Linked DNA regions of Homo sapiens. The protein of the gene in region 2 purifies or fractionates together with the protein of the main gene of each other region. This does not show direct contact. Each region holds a gene or a part of one and is shown on either strand. Other genes may lie near its edges.

Region 1 (7,608 bases), on a different chromosome or scaffold from region 2:
GTACAGATGGGATTTCACCATGTTGGCCAGGGTGGTCTCAAACTCCTGACCTCAGGTGATCCGCCCACCTCGGCCTCCCAAATTGCTGGGATTACAGGCGTGAGCCACCACACCTGGCCAACGTTTTCAGTTTTCAACACTAAGGTTACAAACAGCATTTGATCAGATGGAATGGGCTGTAAAGCAGCACAACATACCCAGCATGGCAAAGATCTTGCATTTCAGGTACCTGCATCTTTGTGTCTCTGGCCAGATCAGAACAGAAACCTCTTACCCTGCGTGTAGTCAGAACTGGGATGCTGGGGCTTGGTGCAGGCCTGGGATCTTCCCTGGCCTCCTCCTTCCTGTGGCAAACCCCCTCCCCACACAAGTGCCATCTGACACACAACCCAGAGAGATCTGGGGGCCATCTTCTCTCTCCCATGGTGCTGCTTCCTGGAACTGGAGCTTACTGGGACTTCCCTGTTTACCACCTCGGGGCAACCCAGCCTGGGGCTTGTTCAGCTGTCATGACCCCAGGTCAGGGCCAGGCAAGGAGTGAACCTGTCATGGAGCTAATGGGCCCCAGCTCTGGCAAGTGGACACACAGCCCCATAGGTGGGACTGAGCTTTCTAGGCCCATGGGGGCAGGTAAAAGCAGTTTGCTGTGGTTAACATAACCTAGGCTCTAAGGCAGTGAAGAACAGGATGTCATCCCCAAATATACCGCTGTGGTACAAGAATTATTCTGAGTAAAAGCAGATGCAGGAAGAGCTCTCTGTACTCCTATCTGCCTAAAAGTAGGGTATTCATTCCCCATGAGAAAGGCACCCTCTCTCTACCAGGAAGAGGAGGGCACTCTAATCCTGGGAGATGATTCTGCCTAAACAGACCTTACTACAATGACCATTATCTTGTGTTAATTCTTCCCATCTATTTCCTAGTCACTTTCCCACAATTTATCAGTCCTAGACGCCCAATCCCATTTCTGTGTCCAGTCACTTCTCCACAATTCACAAACCTTTGCTGAAATACGCTTTTCTATGAAGTTCTTGTGCATGTGAAACTTAAAATATTAATCAAATTGTATGATTTTTTTTCCTGTTAATTTGTCTTGTGCCAGTTTAATTTGCAGCCCTGAGCCACTGAACCTAACAGGGTAGAGGGAAATTTTTTTCTTCACCTGCAAAAGAAAGGGTTAAGTGCTATCCCATGAAACTATATCGAGTCAACTCTATAGAGCTATTGGGCACTCTCTGCACCCATTGGGGTAATTGGTGTCACAAGGGTAATTCTGCTGGGCTAACATGTTTCAGGTGTAGACATTCCTGCATGGGCAAAGAAAAGAAAACCCAAATGAATCTGTGTCTGAACAAGCCCACGGATATGGCTCTAAACCACCTTTCTGCTAAAATCCAAAGCAGAAGGGGACAGATTCAGATTTATTCTAGTATCCCAGAAGTTTGCTCTGTGATAGGGACAGATCAAGCTCAGTACTGATTCTAACACTGCCTTAACTGCTCATCTGGCACACACAAGTGACCATGATGCAACACACAAAGTGCAATCAAGAAAGCTCCAAAGATGCTGCCATCTGCCCCACACGTAGGCTCCCAGGAGCACACCTGCAGCAGGTCAGCGAGGAAAGAGGACAGCGGGAGGGAGCGCAGGCCAGGGAACGTGTGCCCCAGGCCCTTCAGCTCGGGTTTTATTTGGGTTTTAAGCAGCAAGACAAGGGGAGAAAAGGCAGGCTGAGCCCTGGCATCTCAGATGGCAGAGATGGCTCCCAGTACCCCACCCAGAAATGCAGGGCAGCCCTGGAGGGGAGGTTAGAGAGGAAACGACTGTGTCCCCCTCATCCTGCCCAGTCTGGGGCTTTCCCAGGACTTAAGTACTGACCTGCTAACACAGTCCCTGCAGGGAGTCCATCTAGGATCGGCCACCTCTGAGGTTCTCCCACTTTCCTCTGATTCCAGCTCCTTGCTGGCCAGGGTATGGCCACATTTTCCTTGCCCCCACTCCACCACCTTCCACCTTCCACCTTCCTCTCTTAGCCTCTATCTATGAGAGGTACGCCCCTCACCCCCGAGAGCAGGGTCTCATTGGCGGCCATGGTCCCAGCCTCAAGGGGCCTGGTTGAAACAGGCTGTGTCATGAGCCCCCACAGCCACCCTGCGCGACACCCCCCTCACAGGCCCACAGCAGGCTGCATCCTGAGCTCCCCGCCCTAGACAGAGACAGATTACTCCCGGAGCAGTCCCCCAAACCTCCCACCCGCCCAGGCCTCCCCAGTCCCCGGCTCCCCGACGCCCCTGCACGCCACCCCCGCCCAGGAGCACCTTGAGGTCTTCGGCCGCGTCCTGCAGCGGCCGCACGCGGTGCGCCCAGTGCTCCCCAGAGCGCTCGCAGGCCGCACACAGGAGGCGCAGCTCGTCGCCACAGAAGGCGGCCAGTGGCTCGCGGTGCGCGGGGCACACGCCCTGCGGGACCGGCGACGGCGGGTGCAGGCGCCGCGCCATCTCGGCCATCTTAGCAAGCGGGCGGTTGGGCCGCAGGTTCCTCTGCGGGGACAGCTCGCGGCACTCGGGGCACGCGTACGGGCCCTCGGGCTGGCCCCAGCAGCGCCGGATGCACTCGCGGCAGAAGTTGTGGCCGCAGTCGGTCATCACCGGATCCGTGAAGTAGTCGAGGCAGATGGCGCAGGTGGCCTCCTCCTGGAGGTTGGTGGACAGGTCGGGGGCGGCCATGGCGCGGACAGAGGGGAGGAAGGCGGTACTGTCCGCGGGGCGGCGGCGGGCGGCCTCGGCAGCTCGCGGGGACGCGGGGTATCCGGGTGCGGCGGCGCAGGCTCGGGCACTCCGGGGCGCGAGGCTCGGGACTCCCGGGTGCTCGGGCTCCGGGGCGCGGGGACTCCAGGGCGCAGGACTCTGGGTTTCGGTAGCGCTGGGCGCGTAGGCTCCGAGCGCTCGGGGGACGCGGGACGTAGGGATCCCGGATGCCGGCAGGAAGAGGAGCCGAGGCGGAAGCAGGAAGCGACTGGGTGGGTTTTGTGTGTTTTTTTTTTTTTTTTTTTTTTTTTTTTTTTTTTTTTGGAACAACCCGCTTTTGCCTCCGATTGGCCGCTGCCAGTCACGCGGCCCGCGGGCGGGACGGAATTGGAGAGCTTTCACTTGCTGACCTGGCGTCACCACCGCTCCGGTTCTTGTGGCCAGGTCTTTTACCCCTGCCCTGGGGAGGACTCAGGCGCAGGGGAGGGATGGGGACAGGGGGCGGGGCGCAGGGGAGGGATGGGGACAGGGGGCGGGGCGCAGGGGAGGGATGGAGCAGGGGGCAGGGCAAGGAGGGATGGGGACTCAGGGCGGGGCACACGGAAGCAACTGCAAGGACTAAGGGAGTCCGCAGCCTGGGGCATTGGAGCCCTTCGCCATACCCCTAGTGCGTCCTCACCCCCTCAGCCCGTGCTTCCCAGGGCGGGTATCCTCGGAAGGCCCGGCCCTCACAGCCTTGGCAGGCCAAGGTCAGAATGATTGGAGTTGGGGGATGGGACGGGGGCATCCCTCCAGGACCAGCTCTCCAGGAGGCCCACATTCTTTCTGCGGGAACCACTCCAAAGGGGCATGCTGTTCCAGGCAGCCCCTCGCGCAGACACTCCGGCTTTGTCGAGGTAGGAGTACGCTTACTCTGGAATTCTGCCTTGCTAGTGACTGACACAGGCTGTTAAAGTGCTTGACCCTGCAGGGGTGGGTGGGGGGTTCCTTGGAAAAGGTAAGGGCGCTGTGGAAAAGAGGCCCCTACATAAATCCTAATCTCTTTGGGATTTTGCCCCTGCTCGTGCAACTTTGGGGATCGAACGGGATGGGGGTGGGCAGCTCTGAGGCTTTTTACGGGTTCAGCCTTTCCCATTTTCCCCCATCGAAGGACCCAATAGGATGCATAGGACATTTCTATGGGCAGCCTGGGACCATCCCTGACACAGCAACCACCCCCGCTCCTCCCCACCATAGGATATTTCTACTTCTTTGACAGAGTAACCTAAACCCCTGGGGGGGCTGGGAGCCACAGATTCCTGTCATTCCAAAGTGGGGGTGGGGGCATGGCTAAAAAAAACGTGACCACGCTGTTCCTGGTGTGTAGGTATGGATTTAGAAATCGGTCCACTCAGAACGCAGGGGCTTTCAAAAGTTTCCTCTAGGAAGCATCTGTCAGTATACCCTCTTAATGTTTGACAGTTCTAATCACAATTATATTTAGAATTTGAGAAACCCCCCTGTGTGTCTAATGGCTGCCAGCGTGATGCCAGAGAACCCTGGCAGGTGGCCTGCAGTAAGCAGAAGGCCCACACCTTCTGCAGAGCCAGGAGCAGTGCCCGAGTCCCCCGGTCTGTGTCTATCCTTTCACCCACATGGTCACTGTGGAGATGACCATCTGACCAGACTTCGGAGCCCCCAGGCAGAAGAAAGGCTGCAGGGGGCCTGGGAAGGTGGCCTGGGAGTAGGTGTGCAGGTGGGACCCATCGCTTACACTGTAGAAGGACACTTCCCCGGCTTCGAAGTCCAGGAAGATGCCCATGTGGCTGGGAGGCTCCATCAGCATGACCGGGGTTAGGGCAGAGAAGGTGGATAAGTACTTGGTCCCCTTGGACAGCTGCACCACCCAGAAGCCGTTTTCGGGGCACTTGGGGACCCTGTCTTTCCGGCTCACGTTGTCCCTGCACACACCCAGGGCCCACAACGCGTCCCCGGTGATGTTCATGCCCACCTCCCAGTAGTGCCTCCCAGAGGAGAAGGCCGTCTGGCCCACAGCACAGGGGTAAGCCACAAATCGGTCCTTGCTGCAGAACCCACTGCCCTCCGGCGAAGAGCCGAGGTAGCGCCTCTGGCGGCTCTCATACAGGAGGAGGTAGGGGTACGCGGAGGTGGCATCAGGCACCACATCCTCTGTAGATGGGCGTGGTGGTGGAGAGATGGGGAGAGGTGTGGGGCATTCAGGGTCAAAGGTGGGAGTCCCCGGGCCCTAGTGGTGGATGTGGCCAATGGTCCCCTAACTCCGCAGAGGCCTCCCCTGCTGTGAATCTGGGGTTACTTGATGCTTCCACACACCAATTGTGTGTGGGCCTTGGTGGCAATAAGGTACAGGGGGCTGGGCAGAGAGACCACTGGGAACTCAACAAGATTCATCCCATGAATTAGAACCACCAGTAACGCCGCCCTACGAAGGCACAGTGAATAGCCAGTGACCGTCACCAGGCAGTGCACTTGTAGAACCCCCCCCATTGGTGGCTTCCGAGGCTAGGGGGTACAGTGGGGCATCGCCAAGAGATCCTGGGTCAGAGGTCCTGGCCCTGGGTGCCCACTTACCTAGAAAGCCTCTTAGCACTTCAATCTGTCCGGGAACTCTGCACACAGTCCTGGGTCTGGTTGGGGGGGCAACCTCTGGGCACTGCACACTCACGTTGTTCTTCCTCCGGTGGGCACACACAGGGGAGTCTTATTGACTCCCCTGGCCCGACAGTCTTATTGTCCCCCCCGCCCACCGCTGCCACTGCCCCCGCCCCTGCCTGAGGGGACCACATACCTGCTCAGGGGTTCCTTCATGTCCTGCAAAAGACAGGGACGGAGGGTGGGGAGTGAGCCAAGCTCCTGGCTCACCTCAATGTCCCTGCTCCCTTCTTGTCCGTGTCTTAGGGCAAGACCCATCCTGTCCCCTGGGCATTCCCTTCCCACAATTGAGCTTCATGGCACTCCTGAGCCTTCCCCACTGCCCTAGCTCCCACTACCACCAGAGCCCCCAGTGCCTCACCTAAGCTGAGCTACCCTGTCAGCCCACGGCCACACGCCTGAGGTCCTGCAACTCAGGAGAGGCGGAGGGACCCCTTCCAGGCAAGTGGCCACTCAACACTGACCCTCCTCTCCCATTTCAGGTGGGTGCAGCCCACTCAGCAGGAATGGGGTGGGGGCGCAATTGGGTGCAGTTTGGGGAGGGAGGGGGGTGGGTAAGAGACTGAGGCACCTGGGGATTTTCTGTAGCCTCTTTAGGGATTCAGAGTTCCCTAAAGAGATCACTGTTTACTTCTCTGGCCTGGAAGCTACAAGGGACTTGTTTTCCAAAGGCCATATTTCTAGTTGCCAGAGCGTGACCCTAACTCTAGGCAGGGACTCTCATGCAGGTGGCGCGCTTGGCCCTCTGCTCATAGGAGCACCCTTCTACCAGCTGCAGGGGCTTTTCCCTCAGTTGGTCAGCAAACCAATGTAGTGGGTTGTGAACAGGCTGCTTTGTTTTTCCTTTTCCTTTTTTTTTTTTTTCCTAGATGTGATCTCACCATCACCCAGGGTGGAGTGCAGTGGCGCAATAGCTCACTACAGCCTTGAACTCACGGGCTCAAGCAGTCTTCCTGCCTCAGCCTCCTGAGTCCTGGGACCACAGGCGCACGCCACCATGCCCTGCTAATATTTTTAAGTTTTTGTAGAGATGGCGTCTTATCAGCCGTAATCAAGCCCCCTCTCCAGGGCCATGGCACACAGGCTGGTCCCGGCAGACAGGCTGGCTGCTTCACCTCCCCACTGCCGTTGCCACACAACTCACTCCTGGGACAGTGCACCTCCTCCACACCGAGACATGGAGTCCCTGTCCCAAAGCCACACCTGGCTGCCAGGTGTCCCAAGCCACCTCTCTGGACTTGGAAGGAAATGGGGACACTGTCTCAGGTTGGAACCTGTAAGGGGCTGACTTGTGTCCCCACTAATTCACAGGTTGAAGCCTGAACCCTCAGGACCTCAGAATGTGACTGTGTTTGGAGATAGCATCTTTAAGGAGGGAGTTGAGGTCACTGGGGTGGGCCCTAATCCAGTCTGACTGGTGTCTTTATACAAGGAGATGATTAGGACAGAGACGTGCATAGAGAGATGATGCCATGAGGACGCGGGGAGGAGACGGCATCTTCAGGCCTAGGAGAGAGGCTCAGGAGGAACCAGGCCTGCCCGCACCTTGGCCTCAGCCACCCAGCCTCCAGGACTAGCAGACTGGGAGCTAACAGCCCTTTCCCGTTGGCTGCCTCTTCCCCAAGCCCAGCGCCCCCTGCCCATGCCTGTCAGAGCTCACATCCCACCCTGCCTGCCAAGCCTACTGGCTCACCTGCAGCATCTGGAGGGGCCCCTGTGTGCTCCGCTCCTCCAGCTGCAGCAGCAGCAGCTCCAGAGAGTGACCCTGCCGGTCCAGGCAGGCCACGCTCTCCCGGAGCCTGCTGGCAGTCTCCTCTTCTTCCGTCTCCAGAGCCTGGAGGAGCCTCTGCTCTTCTTCCACCAGGTAGAGGTTCATCTTCTCAAACTCCAGCACAATGCGTTCTCTCCGCTCCTTCACCTTGCCCTGCAGGAGTGGAGAAGCCCAGCATGTTGCCAGCAGGTGGCTCAGCTCCAGGGATGCTGGCACCTCTCCCCAGGGCCCTGGTGACCCACAAGATCACCAGCAACTGGAGCTTTAGTTGGGGACCAGGAACTGTGACAGAGGCCCCCACCTCTGCCATCCTGTGATACACTGAGTGTAACCCTCCGAGCCCCGAACTGCAACTTCTACACATCCAAACACCCATGCACCCTTGCTCTGAGGAGGTTCAGAATGTCCACCCCCAGATAA
Region 2 (7,836 bases):
TGGCTGGCATATGGTAACCATGGGGTGACAAAGATAAAGACAAAAAGCCAATGTTGTCATGGTATGTTAGAAAGATGAAAAGAGCTTGAGTCCTTAATGAAATCTTTGAGCAGCCTAGATCACCTGTTTCTGGGACTCTTAAATAAATGATTTACACATCTTTGCTACTCAGAGTGTAGTCTGTGGAGCAGCAGTATAGTCATCACTTGGGAGCTTGTTAGAAAGGAAGACTCTCAGACCCCACCCCAGACGTACTGAAGCAGAATCTGCATTTAAAAAAGATGCCCAGCTGGGGTGTCACGGCTCACACCTGTAACCCCAGCTATTCTGGAGGCTTAGGTGAGAGGATCACTTGAGCCCAGGGGTTTGAGTCGAGACCAGCCTGGGCAACATACCGAGACGAGACCCTGTATCCAAAAAAAAAAAAAAGATGCGCAGGGTTTTGAGTGCACATTAGTTTCAGGAGCACTGGTTTATAGCCTCATTAATTAGGTTCTATTACAAGCAACTGAAACATTCCTAACAGCTATTATGTACGTCCTAGGTATACACATGTATGTGAATGTATGTGTGTATATATACATACATAAATATGCATACATATAGAAAATGTATTAGTATGTGAATATATTATATATATTATTTGTATGTGAATAGGAAAGGAAGGACACAGCTAGGCTGTGGGAATGGGTGCCTATGTGAGAGGAAGTCTGGGGTGATTTCTTCTTAAATACTTCTACAGTGTTTGGAAAATAATTATTTTTAAAGCCATGAATATGCATCTCTTGGATAATTGACGCGGAAGCGAGGCTTACCCGCTCTCCTCCCTGTCCAGCAGGGCGTGGTAGGACGCCACGTCCTTCTGCAGCTGGCACTTGCGGGCCAGCAGATGCGCGCGCTCCTGTTGCTGCTGCTCCGCCTCCGCTCGGATTTCCCTGAGCTCCGCCTCCAGCCGGCCGACCACAGCGCCCAGGTTCTGGAGCTCCATGTCATGCCAGTGCTTGGCATCGTGCAAGGTGTTCTCCAGGCCTCGTTTCTACAAAAGAGCGAACCCGGTCCAAACCCGAGGACAACAGGCCGGGCCCTTGAAGAGGGAGGTGTGCAGAGCAGTGGCAGGGGCTGGTGGTAGCCTGGACTATTCCCCTCGTGGCAGGGACCTTGCCAGTTATGGAGACTGATGGGGGTTATTCTTAGTGGCTCCGTGGGAAAAATAAGGAATCCCACTCAGGTCAGACTGTGGATTAGTCTGATTGATCTTTTTGATGGGAGAGAGGGTGAGGGAGGCGAAAAAGAGAAGGAGAGAGGGAGGGAGAAAAGAAAGGGGGTGTGAGGAGAGAGAGGAGCGGGGCAAGAGGGATAGGGATTGAGAGAGACAAATGAGAGGCAGCTTGCAGGCGTTTCTTCAAAGAAATCTTGTTCTCCGGGGCTTTTTCTTCTGATTTCTTCACTCCCCGGGGGACCCCTTCTCCCTCTGCTGCTGAAACCCCATCCATCATTTGGCTGGAACACCATCTCCTCCAGCTTTCTTTCCCAGATCACTGTCCTTAGAATGAATGTCTCTGGCCTTTATATACTCAGCGCTTTCCCCTTTGGTGTTTTAGTAGCACATTTTTGCCCATCCCTTTTCCTCTGCCGTCCCTTCACTTTGGGCTTCCCAGTGCCCACCCTGAGCCCGCTTTTTTTCCAAGGAGCGCATCCTGGGTCTGTGTTGGTCTCCATCATACTCATGATTTGAACATACTCATGAGTCGTCTCCAGGCCACGTCCTGCGTTGATAATTCCACCACCAATCTTTCCTTCAGTAGCTATGGACCTGCCACTGAACTTCTTACTGGAAACATATACTCAGACCTCACATCAAGGTGTCCAAAATGAAGCCACTGGCTGCCTCCTGAACCTGCTGGCTCCCCCTAGTCTATGCTTCAACGGGTGAACCCATGTGAGCTGGAAACCAGGGAAAGATGTGTTCCTGCTTTCCTTCCTTCTCTTCCTTCCAAATGCAACCATCATGGCCTCCTGTATATTATGAGTCCTGCTTCTTGTATCTCTTGAGAAGTTTTCACATTCTGCAGCCACCATGGTCTGGGATTGGGAGCTTGTCACCTCTCACCTGTGGTACCCTCAGTGGCCTCTTAGCTCATCTCCCCACCTCTAGTTCCTCCTCTTCCTGAGTTCCACACACAAATAGCCACAGTACTCTGTCCAAAGCCCAAACCTGGGCCTGTATCTCCTCTGCTTAAACTCCATTGATGGCTCCCCAGGGCCCCTGATATGGCACACACAGCTGGCCCAGTATGTTTCCATCTTTATCCCCACCCTACAGCAGCATCAACACTTCCAGTCTTGGAGTTTATTTGGTCTGTGTTCTTTCCTCCACCTGCACCATGCTCCTCCATTCCTTCCAGCATCCTCACCTCACTCACTCCTACTCATCCCCAAGTCCAAGCTTAGAGGTAACCTGCCCCAGGAAGCCTTCCTTGAAACTCCTCTGCCGCTACCATCACCAAGCTGGGTTAGGAGACCCTCTGTATTTCCATGGCTCCCCAAGCTCATGCATGCTCTTGAACTTATCACAGTGGGCTAAGCTTGCTTATGGGCACGTCTTTTCCACCAGATGGTGAGACTTGGAAGGAACCAAGTCTCTGTAGTCCCAGCACACAAGTCAGGGCCTGGCACAGAATAGGTTCTTGGTATGTGTAGATTGCCCTGGATGATAGCACTTGTATTATGGTTACACTTATTGCACTATCTATGTCTCCCCATTAGACTGGAAACTTCTTTCTTCTCATCTTCCCATGCACCATGTCCTGAAAACTACAGAGCTAATCAATAAACCCCTTTAAAAAACTGTATCTGTGTTCAACATTTTCCAATAGTTTTAACTATGGTTCACCTATACTTTAGCATCTGGCTTTTTAATATAACACACAAAAAACAAATATCTTTCTAAATTGGATTGAATTAAATTTTGATGCAACAAGTTTCTGTACCCTGTCCTCCAGGAGGAGACTTTTTACACCCTTATGACCACTATGGATGAAACAGAAAATTCTGTCACGACACCATCTTGAATCATGACTGCTGTTAGCATGGATCACCATATTACCTTATTTAAATCTTCTTAATTCCATAGGATATGAGAATGTTGAGTCAGATTCTCATCTGTCTGAGGCATATTTATAAGAGGCAAAACGTGATCACTAGAAAATAAATCTAGATCAGTATCTGGTCTAGGGTTATTATTTAACTAATAGAATCTGGAAACCTTTCTATAGCAGTGAGGATGCAGAAATGGCCACCTTGACTTTGAGCATCATTTGTTCCAACCTCCCTGGGTTTTCTCTCTTTGTTTATGCATGAAAGTACTTAACTTGTGACTAGTTGTTGTTGACATTGGATTTGTAACATCTGTGATTTGGGAACACGCTTCACAGAATCACGGTTGGATCATCTGTCTATAGTTTTTGCTCCATCTTCTAGGTGAGTTCTTCATGTGGCCTGAGGTTTTTCCATGGTGACTTAGGACCCACTGCCAACAGGGCATTCATTGGAACCCCAGCCAAAGGTTATATGTGTCTTCCATCTCACCCTTAAAGTCCGAATCCAGCTTCCCCACCTAAGTCCCTGACATTATGGCAGAAAGAGAGGATGCCTGGTTCTCCCAGAGATGCTTGAGCTGGAGTGACTATGATCAGGCTACTGTTGCAGGCAAGTACACTGGCTCAGTCAGCCACGCAGACAGCACCAGCAAACAAGCTGAGATCACAGAAGCACACTTATTCTGCAGGTCTCTGGAGATTTGAAGGGACTTTCTGGGATTGCAAAATCCTCCAGAAAGTAAAATAGTGACCTTCTGTGACTTCTGGCCTTGAATTCCATTCCTGATTTGAGTTGACTGGACACAGAGTTCAGCAGGTCTCAAGCACCATTATTTGTGCCTAGCTTCCAATGCAAATAGTGCCTTATTGGCAAAGGGGGCCGAAAGTCTCGCCAGCTTGGCTGTCTGAAGCTTATATAAGCTGCGGGGGCCTTGTGTGTGCACAGATCGCTCTGACAGAATAACAGGAATGGCTGGATGAACTTCCTGTATCTGAAAACTGTATGAGAGTTTGTTACCTATTTTGTCCCAATCTGTGCTCCTCACCTTGGCTGCAAGGCCCCGTGACCAGAACGATAATCTACTAGAACCAGCAGGGAACAGAGGCAGCCTGTTCTGGGCTATGGGCATAGACAGAATGGCACTACTCTGAAGTTTTCTGGTTGAGAGTGTAAATTATTTTTCCATTTTTTTCCCCAATGGTTAGGACCCTGGGTTTAAGTGAGGTGACCAGGTGGCTGGTGATGCCAACTTGGAGTTACTGTACTAGTAGCTATTATAGCAATTTTATATGATAATTAATAATAGATGGCATTTATTGACTGCTCACTAACTGCCAGGCACTGTGCTAAGGGCTTGACATACATTATCAAATTAATCATCTCAATGACGTTATGAGGTAAATTCTATTACGATCCTAAAGTGGCTCACACTTGCATTGGCAGCTACAACAATTATCTCCACTCCACAATCGCTTTCTCAATGTGACCTTGCCATTGTCTCATCAAGAAGTTGAATTTATTTCTCTCCCTGTTGAATCTAGGATAGTCTTGTGACTGCTTTGACCACTAGAATGTGGTATAAGTGATGTCCAGAGACTTTCGAGCCCAGGTGTTAAGAGGCCTGGTAGCTTCTGTGCTCACTCAGGTGCTATATCAGAAGTTTGACTATGTCAGGCTGTCATGATATGAGGAGGTCTAAGCTAGCTACACGGAGTGGTCACAGGGAGAGAGAAAAAGAGATGCACAATTGAGTCACCAGAGAAGCTAAATGAAGAAGCCATTTTTGGGTGTTCCAGCCCCAGCAGAGGCCACATGATACAGAGAAGAGTTATCCCTGCTGAATTCTGCCTAAATCACAGAATGAGAGAACAAGTGATTCACTGTTGTCTTAAGCTACTAAGACAGTAACTAGATATGATAGCCAAAATAGATCCTCACTTTACAAGTGAGAAAATGAAAGCTGTTCATTCACATAGCTAGTGAGTGAGGAGAGCACCCACCACGAAGTCTACCTCCTGACTCCCACAGCAGGGGTGCTCTCTCCCATCTGCCCCTCCCTCACATTTGTATCAGCTCCTCCACCGAAGCCACATTAACTCTTTGGAGGCAGGGACCATATCTCATTAGTTTTATGTCTCCAAAGCACTTGGTACAGTTCTAGGAACATAGCAAGTTCTCAAAATAATGCTAAGAGTCAGAAGAGCATGCTCATGTGCATCCACACATTGGATCCCCCTAGAAACACTGAGAAGTGGGCTGGACTGTGACTATCATACCCATTTTGCAGAAGAGGAAACTGTGGTTCAGGGATTTGCCTCTTTACCCAAGGGATAAATGGAGGAGCTGAGCCCTTCTGACTCTATTACTCTTGATTTTCCTCCCCTCAGATCCTCAGATCCTTTTCTTATACATGCTTGCACGGACCTACATCCTATCATGCGCCTCATTGACTCCAGGCCATCTCAGCTGCACAAGGATTACATGGACCAACCTTTGATTTGCACCAACGAAGCTGTAGTTAGAACAATGCAAATGACCTCCTGGAGGGGACATCTAAGAAAAGATGTTTAATACCCAAATAGAACTTCAATCCATTCCAGAGATCAGAGGGTGGATTGCTTCATTATTAATACATTTTATTATTTTAATATTTTAATAAATAATTAATAATGAAAGAGACGAGCTTGCAAATCCCAGTGAGTCTGAGAGCTTACTAGATGTCTCAGGTTGGGTTCTCCAGAAGCAGAGCCTGAGTTAGGGATCCTGGAACTCGCAAATCATTAAGGAGTACTCTCAGGAAAAGGGGGAGTGAGGAAAGCAGGACAGGGCAGAGGAAGGCACTAAGCGAGGATGTGGTCTCTGGAATCTGGCTACAGCCTGGTCCTATGGAGAGCTCTATAGCATGGAGCTAGCTCCATGTTGAAGCAAAAGGGCTGGGCTTTTAATTTTAAAGCCCCCTCTTAGTCACTGGCTGAGCCTTGGGGGGCAGGGCCTAACCTTCTGGGCCAGGTGTCCTCAGTGTGGGTAAGGGCAGGTCTCTGGAGCAGTGGGGCAGCTGAAAAGGGGCGGCTGCAGATGTTAACAGTCAACATTTACTGCAGCAGCCTGGTAAGAGATATTTCCGTGGGGCACTACAGTGTCTATTGCACCTGCTGTGATTCAGTATCTGATGATCCTTGGGAGTCAGAAGACATTTCAGGCCTCAAAACTCATATGCTGTGAGATGGGAATCCCCTGGAAACTAAGATCCATAATACTGGAATTTGACAGTAGAGAGTTAAAATTAGCACAAGGACACCAGGTCTTTCCTTGGCCCACTTACCAGGGCACGTAAGGATTCTGTCTCAGCCTGGAGGCTCTGGACTTGGCACGAAGTGTTGTGTAACTCCACCCTGAGGGCAGCTGCCAGCTTCTCCTCCTGGGTCTGGGACATGTGGGCCACCTCCGCCTGTTGCTGTGGAGAGTCAGGTCTCAGTGTGAGCGGTGATGATCAGAAATCTGAGCCCATCCTTCCTTCCCAGCCTTTCTAATCACCACTCCACTGCCTCTAACCAGAGGAAATACAGCTGTCACGTGGAAACATCTTTTTTTTTTTTTTTTTTTTGTTGAGATGAAGTCTCGCTCTGTAGCCCAGGCTGGAGTGCAGTGGTGCGATCTCAGCTCACCACAACTTCCTCCTCCTGGGTTCAAGCGATTCTCCTGCCTCGAGTAGCTGGGATTACAGGTACCCGCCACCAGGCCTGGCTAATTTTTTTTGTATTTTTAGTAGAGATGGGGTTTCACCATGTTGGTCAGGCTGGTCTTGAACTCCTGACCTCAGGTAATCCGCATGCCTTGGCCTCCCAAAGTGCTAGGATTACAGGCGTGAGCCACCACGCCTGGCTGGAAATGTCTTTTTTTTTAAACAGGTCCCTTCACCAACTTGTATACAAAAATGTATTTATTTTGAACATACGATGCCTGCAAATGAAATACAATTCAAAAGATTTCCTACAGACTATAAAGTCTCATTTTCTCCTGTGTCTTAATTATCCAGTTCTCTTGTTTCTAGTTTCTTATTCCTCTTTCCAGAAATAGTTTATATATTTATAAATAAATATGTATTGCCCCCCCCGTGCTTTGGTACTTAAAGTATCTTAGAAATTATTCTATATCAGTACATATTAGGTTGGTGCAAAGGCGATTGCAGTTTTCGCCACTACTTTCAATGGCAGAGACAGCAATTAATTTTGCACCAACCTAATAGAAATTGAGTACATTCTTTATAGCGGCTGCACAGTGTTGTCTTGTTTGGAAGGGCTGCAATGTATTTAGAAGTCTCTGCTGGTGGACACTCAGATTGTTTCTAGTCTTTCTTTCTCTATTACAAACAATGGTGCAAAGAAAAAGCTTTGATCCCTTATTTTTCATACAAGAGCATGTCTTTGAGAAAGTAGTTCTTGTAGTAGAACTGCTGATTAGAAAGGGTATATATTTTTAATTTTGGTGAATAGTGGCAAATTTCCCTTCGGAAAACTTGAAATCCATTTCAGCATTGTAAGACAGTGCCAGTTGTCCCATACCGCCCTCAAACCAGGAGTTATCCAACTTGATCTCTGTCAATCTGATAGTGCCTGTTTCCTTGTGAAAACCATGTGTCTAGTCACAACTGTGACCCAGACAAAGGGAAGCTCTGTGTTTTTAACTTCTCCCCAGAGCAAGATGGACAGAGTCTGATCCCTCCCCATATATTCAGGG
Region 3 (7,000 bases), on a different chromosome or scaffold from region 2:
AGTGGCGGGCGCCTGTAGTCCCAGCTACTTGGGAGGCTGAGGCAGGAGAATGGCGTGAACCCGGGAGGCGGAGCTTGCAGTGAGCCTAGATCCCGCCACTGCACTCTGCACTCCAGCCTGGGCGACAGAGCGAGACTCCGTCTCAAAAAAAAAAAAAAAAAAAAAAGAATTGATGAGTGAATAATATATTTTTAAGAACAAAAAAGAAATATGGCTTTCAGATCAATTAGTCATTCAACAGGAAAATACTTCACTCTGCATTATTTTGTGACAAGGACTTAAACCATTTCATTTTGCTAAGCAGATACATGACAGTATTCTTTTTTTATTTTTATTTTTTATTTTTTTTGAGAGTCTCGCTCTTGTTGCCCAGGCTGGAGTGCAATGGTGGGATCTTGGCTCACCGCAACCTCTACCTCCCAGGTTCAAGTGATTCTCCTGCCTCAGCCTCCCAAGTAGCTGGGATTACAGGCATGTGCCACCACGCCCAGCGAATTTTGTATTTTTAGTAGAGACAGGGTTTCTCCATGTTGGTCAGGCTGGTCTCGAACTCAGGTGATCCACCCACCTCGGCCTCCCAAAGTGCTGGGATTACAGGCGTGAGCCACCATGCCTGGCCATGTGACAGTATTCTTTCATCATGTATATTTGTACACCAACATTTACTTGATATGTTCATATGTAGAAGGCTGAAAGCAGGTGTGTACACAAAGGCAACTGGGAGGAAACAGATGACACAGAAATGAAAAAAACTCAGTGGACTGATCATTCTAATTGGCATTTATAAATCTAAGAATAAACATGCTTTTGAAATTATAGAGCAAAGATGACAGCCATCATCTCTTCAATAAAATCATGAGCCATTAAAATTTTCAAAAGTATTGCTTTTAATGACACAATCAAGAACCAGGCTGGGCATGTGGCTCATGCCTGTAATCCCAGCACTTTCAGAGGCCAAGGTGGAAAGACTGCTTGAAGCCAGGAGTTTGAGACCAGCCTGGGCAACAGAGCAAGACATCGTCTCTACAAAAAATTTTATTTATTTATTTATTTTTTTATTTACTTACTTACTTACTTATTTATTGGAGATGGAGTCTTGCTTAGGCTGGAGTGCAATGGTACGATCTTGGCTCACTGCAACCTCCACATCCCGGGTTCAAGTGATTCTCCTGCCTCAGCCTCCCAAGTAGCTGGGATTACAGGCGCCCACCACCATATCCAGCTAATTTTTGTATTTTTAGTAGAGACAGGGTTTCACCATGTTGACCAAGCTGACCTCAAGTGATCTGCCCACCTCAGCCTCCCAAAGTGCTGGGATTACAGGCATGAGCCACCGTGCCTGGCCTATTACAAAAAAATCTTTAAAAATTAGCTGGGTGCGGTGTTGCATGCCTGTGGTACCAGCTACTCAAGAGGCTGAAGCAGAAGGATCACTTGAGCCCAGAAGTTCAAGGTTGCAGTGAGCTATGACTGTGCCACTGTATTCCAGCCTGGGCAAAAAAGCAAGACCATGTCTCAAAGCAACAACCACAACGAAAAGAACTAGAAGTAATAATAACCTGAAATCTATTAGAGAGGTAACTGAACTTTGGAATCAATATTTTACAAGATAAAGATATTCCAGGTTATACAATTAAGGGTTAAAAAGCAGTTCACTGAATTCAAAGAACATTGCTTATTTTGAGTCTTTATGCTTTCAAAACCAGAAAAAAATTAAATAAAAATTTGGATTTGCTGTATTTAAATTATTAAAATGTCTTTTTCTTTTTTTGATACAAGGTCTCACTCTGTTGCCCGGGCTGGAATACAGTGGCAGGATCACAGCTCACCGCAGCCTTGACTTCCTGGGCCCTAAGATCAGGTGATCCTCCCACCTCAGCCTCACAAGTAGCTGGGACTACAGACACCCACCACCACACCTTGACTAATTTTTTTATCTTTATTTTTTGTAACCGGTCTCAAACTCCTGGCCTCAAGCCATCCTCCCACCTCCACCTCCCAAAGCGCTGAGATTACAGGCATGAGCCACTGCGCCCAATCTAGACCCTAATAATGAATAAAACATTAAAATTAATTTGCTATTCCTGTATCCTTTTTTTCTTTTTTTGGATGGAGTTTTTCTCTGTCACTCAGGCTGGAATGCAATGGCGTGATCTCGGCTCAGTGCAACCTCCGCCTCCCAGTTTCCAGCAAGTCTCCTGCCTCAGCCTCCTGAGTAGCTGGGATTACAGGTGTGCACCACCACATCCAGCTAATTTTTTTGTATTTTTAGTTAGAGATGGGGTTTCACCATGTTGTCCAGGCTTGTCTCAAACTCCTGATCTCAAGTGATCCACCCACCTCGGCTTCCCAAAGTGCTCAGATTACAGACATGAGCCACTGTGCCTGGCTGCTATTCCTATATTCTTAACTTTTTTGTATCCAAATATTATTATCATTTTAGTGTTTAAAAAGCTCCAGGTTAAACAGAATTGCATTCTTAATATTATACTTAGCTGGGCGTGGTGGCTCACGCCTGTAATCCCAGCACTTTGGGAGGCTAAGGCGGGTGAATCACGAGGTCAGGAGTTTGAGACCAGCCTGGCCAATGTGGTGAAACCCTGTCTCTACTAAAAATACAAAAATTAGCTGGGTGTGGTAGCGTGCACCTGTAGTCCCAGCTACTCGGGGGGCTGAGGCAGAAGAATTGCTTGAACCCAGGAGGTGGAGGTTGTAGTGAGCCAAGATAGTGCCACTGCACTCCAGCCTGGGTGACAGAGTGAGACCCCGTTTCAAAAAAAAAAAAAAAAAATTATTCTTAAATAAATGTGCCACTGCAATTTAGTATGCTGTTAGAACACAGTAAACTCTGGATTATGATAAATTATTGATACTATTATTTCTACATTTGGCAGTTTTCCTACTTATACAGAAATAGAGATGGGAATATTAAAGAATAGCAAACTGCAGTAACAGGTAAATATATTTTTCATCTACAGAAGGTTGATAAAAGCTCAAAAAACAATCAAAATTAAACAAGAAGAGAAAAAAAGTGCTAAGCAGTACATTTAAAAAGAAAGGATCAAAGTAATGTTTGAGTAACCTTCATGACTTCAAAAAAGAAAAATCTAAGTAGTCTTTGATTTTTCTTACCTCTGATCTCAAGATTGCATGAATGGCTTCAATTTCCTTTGTCCTAGAATCAGGTAATTCTGCTACAAGAGAAATAACAAATATTGAATATTTAATCAATACCATATGAAGTAATAAATAGGTATTTTCAAGAAAATATATTTCACTGAGTTTACACAGAATAGTAGGCTGATATGAAAGCATTCAGAAGAAACAAATCGCTTTATTTCCATAACAACTTTTCACTGACACTAATGTTCTTCATTGTCATAAAAGTCATTCTTTTTGCCTATGCCCTGTATCTTAGGATGTCTACCTTTACCCCTTAGAAATGTTCATTAGAATTTTGTTGTGGGAAATTAAGCTTTAGAAATTAAAACTATTTCTCTGTGGGCTAATGCTGCTATAATTTTAGATGAAGCTTACTCAACTGGGGCTTTAGGCCTTATTTCTAACTGTAAGAATTAAAGAAAGAGGAGAGAAACACAAAGGGTGGCTTGCCAGTTAAGACAGGTTTATTTTAGAGAAAACAAACCTGAGAGGGGTGTTCGGCTGAGTTAGGTTAGAGGCACACTCTTTTCCAGACTAAGAGTTTTTAAGGATTTAGGGTGGGAGAATTTATTAGAGGCTTAGACTGCTTCTGTGTTTTTTTGTAGTGCTTATCTGGGAGGGAGAGTTGTGTATTTGTTCCATTTATTCTAGAGCTGCAGGCATACCCCCCGAGTCTGCTTTAGCTTCCCTATTTTAGTGCACCTGAAGGGAAAGGAATGTGCTTTCTAAGGCCCACTGCTTTACTGGGGCCCACTGTATGAGAGTGAAGTTTGGCAGTTACCCAAGAGACTTTACCCCCACCTCCCTTTGTGCCCGAGCACTCCCTCTGTATGTGTTTTACTGTCTGCTTTTTCTGGCTGCTTGTAGTTAGAAGAGAAGTGACTTCCTTGAAATGCATGAGGCTAGAAAGGGAGCTGGAGGTCAGGTACGGTGGCTCACCGCCTGTAATCCCAGCACTTTGGGAGGCCAAGGTGGGCGGATCACGTGAGATCGGGAGTTTGAGACCAGCCTGGCCAACAGGTAAAACCTCGTCTCTACTAAAAATACAAAAATTAGCCGGGTGTGGTGGCACACGCCTGTAATCCCAGCTACTCAGGAGGCTGAGGCAGGAGAATTGCTTGAACCTGGGAGGTGGAGGTTGCAGTGAGCCGACACTGTGCTACTGCACTCCAGCCTGGGTTACAGAGTGAGACTCTTGTCTCCAAAAAAAAAAAAGGAAAGGGAGCTGGAACTTAAAGTGGCACTGTTTGTCTGAGATAACAACAGTGCTCCTGCTCTGTCACTAACTTCTGCTCTCAATACTATCAAATAATAAGTGACCTATAAACGAAGAAAAATACACTGAGAACACTTATTTAAAGTAACATAGACACAATTTATTAAAAATGGGAATGAGCTCAGTCTGGTTTTCTACATTTTCATCTTTATTTTTTAATTTTCTTGGAAAGGGTCTCACTTCACTCTGCCACCTAGGCTGGAGTATAGTGGTGTGATCATGGCTCACTGTAGCCTCAAACTCTCTCGCTTCAGCCTTCCAAGTAGTTGGAACTACAGGCACATGCGACCACACCTACCTAATTTTTTTACTTTTTTGGAGAGATGAGGTTTCACTGTGTTGCCCAGGCAGGTCTCGAACTCCTAGCCTTAGGGAATCCTCCACACTCAGCCTCCCAAAGTGCTGGGATTACAAGTGTAAGTCACCATGCATGGCCCTTGGTTTTGTACATTTTCATTTAAAAGTAGAGTGAGAGCCCAGCAGTGTCAACATGGCACCACTAATGCTGTTAGAAAATCATCATCTGGCTGGTCTCGGTGGCTCATGCCTGTAATCCCAGCACTTTGGGAGGCCAAGGCAGGTGGATCACTTGAGGTCAGGAGTTCAAGACAACCCTGGCCAATATGGCAAAACTCCATCTCTACTAAAAATACAAAAAAAAAAAAACTGGCCAGTCATGGTGGTAGGTGCCTATAATCTGTAATCCCACCTACTTAGGAGGCTGAGGCAGGAGAAATTGCTTGAACTGGGGAGGCAGAAGCTGCAGTGAGCCAAGATCGTGCCACTGCACTCCAGCCTGGGCGACAGAGCAAGACTCGGTCTCAAAAAAAAGAAAAGAAAAGAAAATCATCATCCAGAGTTAGATTTTTTTTCTAAGTACTAGTATTTTTTTCATTACTCACAGCTCTTTAATATAAAAATAACTTATCTGGACTACAGTTTATTAGGAGTGTCCAATCTTTTGGCTTCCCTGGGCCATACTGGAAGAACTGTCTTGGGCCATACATAAAATACACTAACAATCGCTAATGAGCTTTAAAAAAAAAAAAATCGCAAAAAACCTCATTTTTTATTTATTTATTTATTTATTTTTTTTTTGAGACAGAGTCTCGCTCTGTCGCCCAGGCTGGAGTGTAGTGGCACAATCTCAGCTCGCTGCAACCTCTGCCTCCTGGGTTCAAGTGATTCTCCCACCTCAGCCTCCCCAGTAGCTGGGACTATAGGCCTGCGCCACCATGCCCGGCTAATTTTTGTATTTTTTAGTAAAGAGACGAGGTTTCACCATGTTGGCCAGGCTGGCCTTAAACTCTTGACCTCAGGTGATCCTGAGGCCCTCCTCAAAGTGCTCCCAAAGGGCTGGGATTACAGGTGTGAGCCACCGCGCCCAGCCAGAAAAACTCATAACATTTTAAGCACGTTTATGAATTTGTGTTGGGTCTCATTCAAAACCCATCCTGGGCCACATGTGGCCTGCAGACCACAGGTTGGACAAGCTTGGTTTAAATCAAAAGAAGCATGCAGTAATTACAGTGACAAACACTCTTGTTTAGAAAATCACCAGGTAGGGTTACATCTGTGGTTGGTTGTACATCTTGCTTGAAACTATGAAAGGACTGTTTAATTGCTACTCTGAAGAGGACAAGTTATAATCTAATTTGTTTAGGAAGGTAATTGTTAAAAGCAGCAACTATTTTAAAGAGGGATTTTACAAGTCCATGCAAACTCCACACCTCCCCCAACAAGAAAAACTTGGCCTTTTTAAGTACAAAGGGGAGATATTATGCAGACAAAAATATTCTGACTTTGTCAATAAGGGCAAATATGACATTTACCATTCATTAATGTTTACGATTCGGTAGACACAATTCCAGGCATTTTACACTCATGATTTCATTTAATCCTCTCAACCTCACAATAGGTATGATTATCCCTATTCAACATATAAGGAAACTGTGCTTTTGGAGGTTAATTTCTAATAATTTGCCAAAAATCCCACAACTTGTAATGCACAAAAGCAGAATTTCAACCCATGTCTCTCTGATTTAAAAGCCCAAGCTCCTAACCTTGAATAAATCAGTAGTGTTAGGTAAAACTGCAACCTTCTGATATTGTAAATATGGATGGCTTTCAAGTTGTCCACATAGTGCTATTTTGGAACTGTTTTATTTTTCATTACTGACACAGGGTAAACACTAATAAATACTTGTTCAATGAATAAAAGAACTGTACTCTGACCCTCCATTCCCTTTATTTTTTTAGACAGGGTCGTCTCTGTCACCCAGGCTGGAGTTCAGTGGTGCAATCGCAGCTCACTGGAGCCTTTAACTACTGGGCTCAAGCAAACCTCCCATTTCAGCCTCCCAAGTAGGTGAGACTACAGGCACATGCAGCCATGCCCAGCTAAAAACTTTTTGTAGAGATGAGATCTCCCTATGTTGCCCAGGCTAGTCCTCAACTCCTGGCTTTAAGCTATCCTCCCACTTTAGCCTCCCAAAATGCTGAGATTACAGGTATGAACCACACCTGGCCAGACCCCTATTTTTAAAAATTTACAAAATCAAT

The links. Proteins that work in one complex are often made in the same cells at the same time.
Region 1: the proteins of BFSP2 (region 2) and TRIM11 purify together in Homo sapiens (co-immunoprecipitation; 3 studies listed by BioGRID and IntAct, with this or other methods). This does not show direct contact.
Region 3: the proteins of BFSP2 (region 2) and TRIP11 purify together in Homo sapiens (affinity purification with mass spectrometry; 2 studies listed by BioGRID and IntAct, with this or other methods). This does not show direct contact.

Annotation. Positions count from the first base shown.
Region 1 is NC_000001.11:228,403,836-228,411,443, forward strand, and holds the start of TRIM11 (E3 ubiquitin-protein ligase TRIM11), read right to left. Parts: upstream 3,001-7,608; 5' UTR 2,727-3,000; coding exon 2,319-2,726; intron 1-2,318. Other genes in the region: E3 ubiquitin-protein ligase TRIM17, read right to left, coding at 4,366-4,916, 5,337-5,440, 5,554-5,576, 7,111-7,341.
Region 2 is NC_000003.12:133,465,545-133,473,380, reverse strand, and holds part of BFSP2 (phakinin), read right to left. Parts: intron 6,554-7,836; coding exon 6,422-6,553; intron 1,037-6,421; coding exon 816-1,036; coding exon of another isoform or gene 812-815; intron 1-811.
Region 3 is NC_000014.9:92,030,060-92,037,059, forward strand, and holds part of TRIP11 (thyroid receptor-interacting protein 11), read right to left. Parts: intron 3,195-7,000; coding exon 3,133-3,194; intron 1-3,132.